2 linked regions of the Homo sapiens genome follow. The protein of the gene in region 2 purifies or fractionates together with the protein of the main gene of each other region. This does not show direct contact. Each region holds a gene or a part of one and is shown on either strand. Other genes may lie near its edges. The genes, in order: C11orf54 and AGR3.

What was found.
Region 1: the proteins of AGR3 (region 2) and C11orf54 fractionate together in Homo sapiens (co-fractionation; one large-scale study listed by BioGRID). This does not show direct contact.

The regions. Positions count from the first base shown.
Region 1 is NC_000011.10:93,755,136-93,758,960, reverse strand, and holds part of C11orf54 (ester hydrolase C11orf54), read right to left. Parts: intron 3,752-3,825; coding exon 3,575-3,751; intron 1,646-3,574; coding exon 1,496-1,645; intron 1-1,495. UniProt on the Homo sapiens protein: Exhibits ester hydrolase activity on the substrate p-nitrophenyl acetate, in vitro. Regulates DNA damage and repair by regulating HIF1A degradation via chaperone-mediated autophagy (CMA).
Region 2 is NC_000007.14:16,871,796-16,875,620, forward strand, and holds part of AGR3 (anterior gradient protein 3 precursor), read right to left. Parts: intron 2,049-3,825; coding exon 1,985-2,048; intron 1-1,984. UniProt on the Homo sapiens protein: Required for calcium-mediated regulation of ciliary beat frequency and mucociliary clearance in the airway. Might be involved in the regulation of intracellular calcium in tracheal epithelial cells.

The sequences.
Region 1 (3,825 bases), on a different chromosome or scaffold from region 2:
GATGATCACAGTGGGCCTGGAAAAAGCACCACAAGTTTCCACTCTGGTGTGTGGGATTGGCAGCTGGGCCCCCAGCCTTCAGGCCTTCCCTGGCCCGAAAGTGGGGCCTCACCGGAAACCCGCCCCCTTCTGCCCCGGAACCTGTCTGCCTCCTGCTGCCGATCACGGAATCCAGGCTGTAGGTGCCAAGGGGTGCCTGAAGGCCAGTGGGGAGCTGCTCTCAGCCGCCGCTCAGCTTCCCTTCTACGCTCGTGTCAGCGCCCCAAATCCAGAAGGGGCCGGGACGGCAGGGGGCTGGTGTGTCAGCAGTGCCCTGAGCGTGTGCACACCTGGCTGGGCTGCGACAGCGACCGGGCTCTGCCTGACTTTGCTCCTGGATCGGAGCAGGCGCCGACAGCAGGGAGAAGCCAGGCAGTGGGAGCAGGCATTTCCAAGCCTGTAAGAGCAGTGGGGGCCTTCCCAGACCCCCAAGAATGCAGGAATGCCTGGGTCCGCAGCCACGGTTTGGGCAGCTGCAGCTGTGTGGAGAAGGCAGGGCTCCTGCCTGCTCCGTGGAGCGGGAGACCCAGGTCTGCAGCCGCGGGTTTGAGCTGCTGCAGCTGCGCCTGGGCAGTTGGGGCTCTCGCCTGTTCCCACTGGGAGAGCACAGGGATGCCAGGGACTACAGCCATGGCTTGGGCGATTGCAGCGGCACCAACGGAGCTCCAGCGCCAACTCGGAAGGGGCAGGACTCCCACCTGTCTTCAGCTCCCACCCGCTCCATAGAGTGTGTAGCCTCAGCCGTGCCTCCCTGCTGCAGCCGCTCCAGAGAGCCTGCCGCTGCCATCATCACTATGTTGACCAGGCTGGTTTTGAATTCCTGGCCTCCAGCGGTCCTCCCACCTGGGCCTCCCAAAGTGCTGGGATTACAGGCATGAGTCACTCTGCAGGCCTTGAATTTATCTTGATCTTAAAAACAAACATATCCAAAATAAAGTTCTAATATACTAACATGGACAAAGATATTATCTTACAATCTGATTTATAAAATTATCATTTAAATTTTAAAGTAATACAATCATAATAAAAAGGATTTGTTTAAAGTGTCTTCAAATGTAGAATTCCCAACACATACTTTACAATCCTAAGATCTGGCCCGGTGCAGCGTCTCACGTCTGTAATCTCAGCACTTTGGGAGGCCGAGACAGGTGGATCAGCTGAGGTCAGGAGTTCGACACCAGTCTGGCCAATGTGGCAAAACCTTGTCTCTACTAAAACTACAAAATGAGCCGGTTGTGATGCTGCATGCCTATAATCCCAGCTACTCAGTAGGCTGAGGCAGGAGAACCCCTTGAATCCGGGAGATGGAGGTTGCAGTGAGCCAAGATTGTGCCACTACACTCCAGCATGGGCAACAGAGCAAGGATCCGTTTAAAAAAAAAAAAAAATCCTAAGATCTTAAGTAAGTGCACACACACAAACTCCTTCATGCATGTATGCACACATGGGCTCTTACCATAATGTGAGACTTCACTTTTCCCTTCTGAATTATGAAAGTACCTCCCATTCCTATAGGCTTATTTCCATAATGTTTTTCCAGGGTCTCTCTCATACAAGTCACAAAGTTAAGTGGTCCAGTTCTTCTTTTGGCTTTCACCTCAATTACCTATAGAGGACATAAAGATGCATACCATTGACTATGCTGCAAAATAACTACTGAAATAAAACATTATATAATTTAATTCTATCAAGCAAATATTCTGTTCTTTGCTTAGAGCCCCCAGATCTGAGTTGAGATGTTGCAATCCCGTGAATTTTGATCAGTCATATATATATGTATGCACACACACACACACATACTTATCAGTTACATGTAATTTACTAGTAAGTCTTAAGCATGCTTTCTTGAACTGAGAAACTGAGAAAGACAAGTTTCTCAGTGCAGAGAGTCTAGAGACTCTTAACATACGTGTCGAGGCAGTCAAAGATTGAGAATTACCTTTGGTAATTCTTTGGTTAAAGGAATTAACCTTTGGTAAGTGGGGATGAGGAGAAAATGATTACATTTTCTCACTTCCCTTAAAATTCTGTATTATCTCCACAACTTGGACGTTAAGTATTTTCACTTCTCAATCTCTTATCTCAAAGTAGCTGAAGAGGCTATCTCTACTTCCAAAACTGGAGAGTCTTCACAAAAGCTAACACTGAAATCATATTTTTGTGTACTAATAGGAAGTAAATATCAAGTAAGGCATTAGTTTTCCTTACTTTGTTCTTGCTGTAAGTTTTTGCTACCACCATTTCTATCTAGAGCAATGTGTGATTCATCAGAAAGAAGCAAATAACCTATTTACTACCTGTAAGTAGGCATTATTTATTTTAGCTGTATGGTTCATGTAGATGACAAACTCACTCCCCAAATTAATATTCTATTACCTTTTAGTTCTCAGAAAAAGGTCTTGCTTACTAAGTAGTCTTTTTTTTTTTTTTTTAAGACAGGTCTTGCTGTCACCTAGGTAGGAGTGCAGTGGTGTGATCATAGCTCGTTGCGGCCTCAAACACCTGGGCACAAGGGATCCTCCTGCATCAGCCTCCTGAGTAGCTAGGACTATAGGCATGTACCACCACACCTGGCTAATTAAAAAAAAAAATTTTTTTTTTTTTTTTTTGACAGGGTCTTGCCATGTTGCCCAGGCTGGTCTGAAACTGCCAGCCTTAAGTGATCCTCCAGCTTTGGCCTCTCAAAGGACTGGAATTATAGGCATAAGCCATTGTGCCAGCCATACTATTCTTTTTTTTTTTTTTTTTTTTTTTGGAGACAGAGTCTTGCTTTGTTGCCCAGGCTGGAGTGCAATGGTGCAATCTTGGCTCACTGCAACCTCTGTCTCCCAGGTTCAAGCAATTCTCCTGCCTCAGCCTCCCAAGTAGCTGGGACTACAGGCATGTGCCACCTTCCCTGTCTAATTTTTGTATTTTTAGTAGAGACGAGGTTTCGCTATGTTGGCCAGACTGGTCTCAAATGCTTGACCTCAGGTGATCTACCCACCTTGGCCTCCCAAAATGCTTGGGAATACAGGCGTGAGCCACCGCGTCTGGCCTCCAGCCATATTATTCTTAACCTTAAAGATGACTTTTGCTCTGCCTGTCATACTCTCTGAACCTTTCATTACTGGGTTATTTAAAGAGCTTTGACTTAGGAAGCTCTAATTTTCTTTTTTTTTTTTTTTTTGAGACAGAGTCTCACTCAGTGGCCCAGACTGGAGGGTAGTAGCATGATCTTGGCTCACTGCAACCTCTGCCTTCCGAGTCTGAGCGATTCTCTCACCTCAGCCCCCCCGAGTAGCTGGGATTACAGGCACACACCACCACACCCTGCTAATTTTTGTATTTTTTGGTACAGATGGGGTTTCACCATGTTGACCAGGCTGGTCTTGAACTCCTGACCTCAAGTTGACCTCAAGTTATCCACCCAGCTTGGCCTCCCAAAGTGGGAAACTAATTTTCTTAGCAAAACCATATTTATGGCAGTAAAAGTTCACATTTTTAGCTTTCTGAGAACATTTAGGGAATATTGTATTTTTATGGACACAATCACCTTGCCAGGTTGGCCTTCACTGGCAAAAAGATTAGCCAGTAATGCACACTGAAAATCATGACATTTCTCACTGTATTTCTCCAGTAGGCACCCTCCATCTGCAGGGTTCACATGGGCAAAGTAACTTCCATTTACAGGAGGCTTGTGTTCACTTTCTGTCTGAATAACTGGCATAAACTGAAAAGAAAGTGAGGCAATTAGTCAATCTTTGTATCTCTGCAAAGAGAATATCTTGAATAATGTTACAAAAC
Region 2 (3,825 bases):
CGCGCCACTGTACTCCAGCCTGGTGACAGAGCAAGACTCCATCTCAAAAAAACAACAAGCAAACAAAAACCACACACACACACCTAGGAATATATTAACCAAGGAGGTGAAAGATCCCTACAAGAAAAACTATAAAACATTGATGAAAGAAATTGAAGAGAACACCAAAAAATGGAAAGACATCCCATGCCATGGATTGGAAGAATGAATTTTGCTAAAATGACCATACCACCAAAGGCAATCTACAGATTCAATGCAATCTCTATCAAAATACCAATGATATTTTTCACAGAAACAGAAAGAAAAAAATCTTCAAATTTGTATAGAACCACAACAGACTCCAAATAGTTCAAAGCAATACTGAGTGAAAAGAACAAAACTGCAGGCATCATACTACTTGACTTCAAAATATACTGCAAAGCTATAGTAAACAAAACAGCATGGTATTTGTATAAAAACAGAAACCTAGACCAATGGAATAGAATAGAGAACCCAGAAATAAATCCACGTATTTAAAGTCAGCTGATTTTTAACAAAGGTGGCAAGAACATGCATTGGGGAAAGGACACCCTCTTCAATAAATGGTGCTGGAAAACCTGGATATCCATATGTAGAAGAATGAAACTAGACTCCTAACTCTTACCATATGCAGAAATCAATTCAAAATGGACTAAAGACTTGAATGTAAGACCCCAAACTATAACACTCCTAGAAGAAAATATAAGGGAAGCCCTTCGGACATTGTTCCCTGCAAAAAAATGTATGGGTAAGATTTCAAAAGCACAGGCAACAAAAACAAAAATAGACAAATGGGACTATGTCACCTGAGAAGCATCTGAACAGCAAAGGAAACAAAAGCATAAGGGGACAAACTGTAGAATAGGAGAAATTATTTGCAAACTATTCATTCGACATGGGCCTATATCTAGAATATACAAGGAACTCAAACAACTCAACAACAAAAAACCCCAAATGATTTGATTTTAAAATGGGCAAAAGATCTGAATAGACATTTCTCAAAAGAAGACACACAAATGGCCAAGGATATGAAGAAATTCTCAACATCTCTAATCATCGGGGAAAGGCAGATCAAAACCACAATGAGATATTATCCCACCACAGTTAGAACTGATATTATCAAAAAGACAAAAAATAACAAATGCTGGTGAGGATGCAGAGAAGAGGGAATTCTTATACACTGTTGGTAGGAATGTAAATTAGTACAGCCATTATGCAAACATATAGAGGATTCTCAGAAAACTAAAAATATAACTACCATATGATCCAGCTTTCCTACTACTGAGTATTTATTTAAAAAATCAGTATATCAAAGAGATATTTGCATCTCCATATTTATGGAATCACTATTCACAATAGCCAAGATATAGAATCAACCTAAATGTCCATCAATGGATGGATGGATAAAGAGAACATGTTATATATTCACAGTGGACTACTACCCAGACATAAAAATAATGAAATGCTCTCATTCACAGCAGCATGAATGAGCCTGGAGGATGTGTTAAGTGAAATAAGTCAGATATAGAAAGATAAATACCACAAATTCTGACTCATATAGAGTAGCTTAAAAAAAAGTTGTACTAATAGAAGTAGAGAGTAGAACTCTGGTTATTAGAAGCTGGGGAGGGTTCAGAGCTGGAAGGATAAGGAGAGGTTGATTAATAGATGCAAAAATATAGCTAGATAGGAGGAATAAGTTTGAGTAGTATTCTACAGCACTATAGGGTACATACAGTTAACAATAGTTTATTGTATATATTTAAAAAGCTAGTAGAGAGGATTTTGAGTGTTCCCACCAGAAAGAAATGATATGTTTCAGGTGATGCATATGCTAATTACACTGATTTGATCACTACACATTGTGTACATGTATCAGCATATCACTCTATATTCCATAAATATGTACAATTATTATGAGTCTACTACAAATAAAAGGAAAAAAATGAGCTGAGAAGCATGTTACCTTTTTTGAGCATAAAAGAGACCTTCTTCATAAGTTTGTACCCAAGTGATGTCATCTCCCCATCCTGAAATAGAAGAGAGAAATCAATGCAGTAACCCAGAACTAGAGAAGAGCTCGGAAATGGGTATCTAATAATCAGATATCTACCTACAGATATTTAACTAAGCCATCAAGCTGTTGGCTGACATATGGTGCAGAGGACACACAATTTTCACAAGATATGGAGGTGATTTCCCTTTAGATTGCAGTACTGAGGTTTTGCTACTGCATTTCAAACCTCGAGGCCCATGGCCTTGAACCCAGTAAGTACTCAATACATGTTGTTATGATTAGAGCTGATTGAAAGGACATCTTTGGATAATGTAAAAGCTGTGGCTTTAGGAACGCTTGGAAAGTAACAGTTCATCTTTGCATACTTTGTAATATTATTAGGAATCCTTTCGGCTGTACTCTACAATGCCCTCCTATTTTGGGTCCCAAGAGATGTTGACCTCTTCTAAGTCAGTATACGTTGTGAAATAAGGGAATTCCAAGTTTTGCTTTGAATTCTGACATGGAAAAAATTCTTGTGTGGGAATTTCATGGCCAAGAGACATAATAAAACGCATGTGTTTTGGAAACACCCAAAAGAATGGAGAGAAAAAACAGAAAGCAATGAATATAGAGAGAACCCATTAGCCTTAAAGAAATGGTATGAATAGTTGGGAATGTGTATAAGCAATTAAAGATAAAATCATCAAGTAGAAGAATGTGCAGAACCTCCAAAAACATTACTGAGTATTTTCAGGAAGTGTCTCAGTCTACGAATGAGAGAGATTGAATTAATGTGAAAATTAGCAATATTTGGAAGTCAGTTTGGGCCCAGGTTTTCTTGTACATTTCAAATGTTGTCAGACCACAGTTTCTGGCTTTAATATCATGGTAAATATGATAGTAATTTGATAAATATGATTCCATGATTTTTGCTTGTTTTTCATGTTTGTTTTCTGGCGACAGCTTTATTGAAATAAAATTCATACGCCAATACAACTCACCTATTGAAAACGTATACTTTTGGCCAGGCATGGTGGCTCATGACTGTAATCCTAGCACTTTGTGAGACCAAGGTGGGTGGATCATTTGAGGTCAGGAGTTCAAGACTAGCCTGGTCAATACAGTGTAATCTGTCTCTACTAAAAATGCAAAAATTAGCTGGGTGTGGTGGCATGTGCCTGTAGTCCCAGCTACTCGGGAGGCTGAGGCAGGAGAATCGCTTGAACCTGGGGGTGGATGTTGCAGTGAGCCAAGATTGCGCCACTGCTCTCCAGCCTGGGTAACAGAGCGAGACTCCATCTCAAAAAAAAAAAAAAAAAGAAAAAAAGAAAATGTGTGCTTTTTTCAGTATATCCACGAAGTTGTGCAACCATCATCACATCAATTTTAGAACATTTTCATCTCCTCAAAAAGAAACCCTATACCATTTAGCTATCACCTGCTCCCCATTTTCTTCAAATGCCACAGCCCTAAGAAACCCCTAATCTACTTTCTGTCTCTATAGATTTGCTTATGCTGGACATTTCATATAAATGGAATCATACAATATGTAGGCTTTTGTGACTAGATTTTTTCACTCAGCATAACCTTTTTAAGGTTCATCCTTATAGTGCCATGTATTATTATTTAATTCATTTTTTATGGTCAAATATTATTCCATTGTATGAATATACCATATTTTATTTATCTGTTCATCAGTTAATGATATTTGGGTTGTTTCCACTTTTTGTCTTTTATGAATAATGATGCTATGAACATACATATACAAGTTTTTCAGTGGTATATATTTTCATTTATCTTGGGTATAT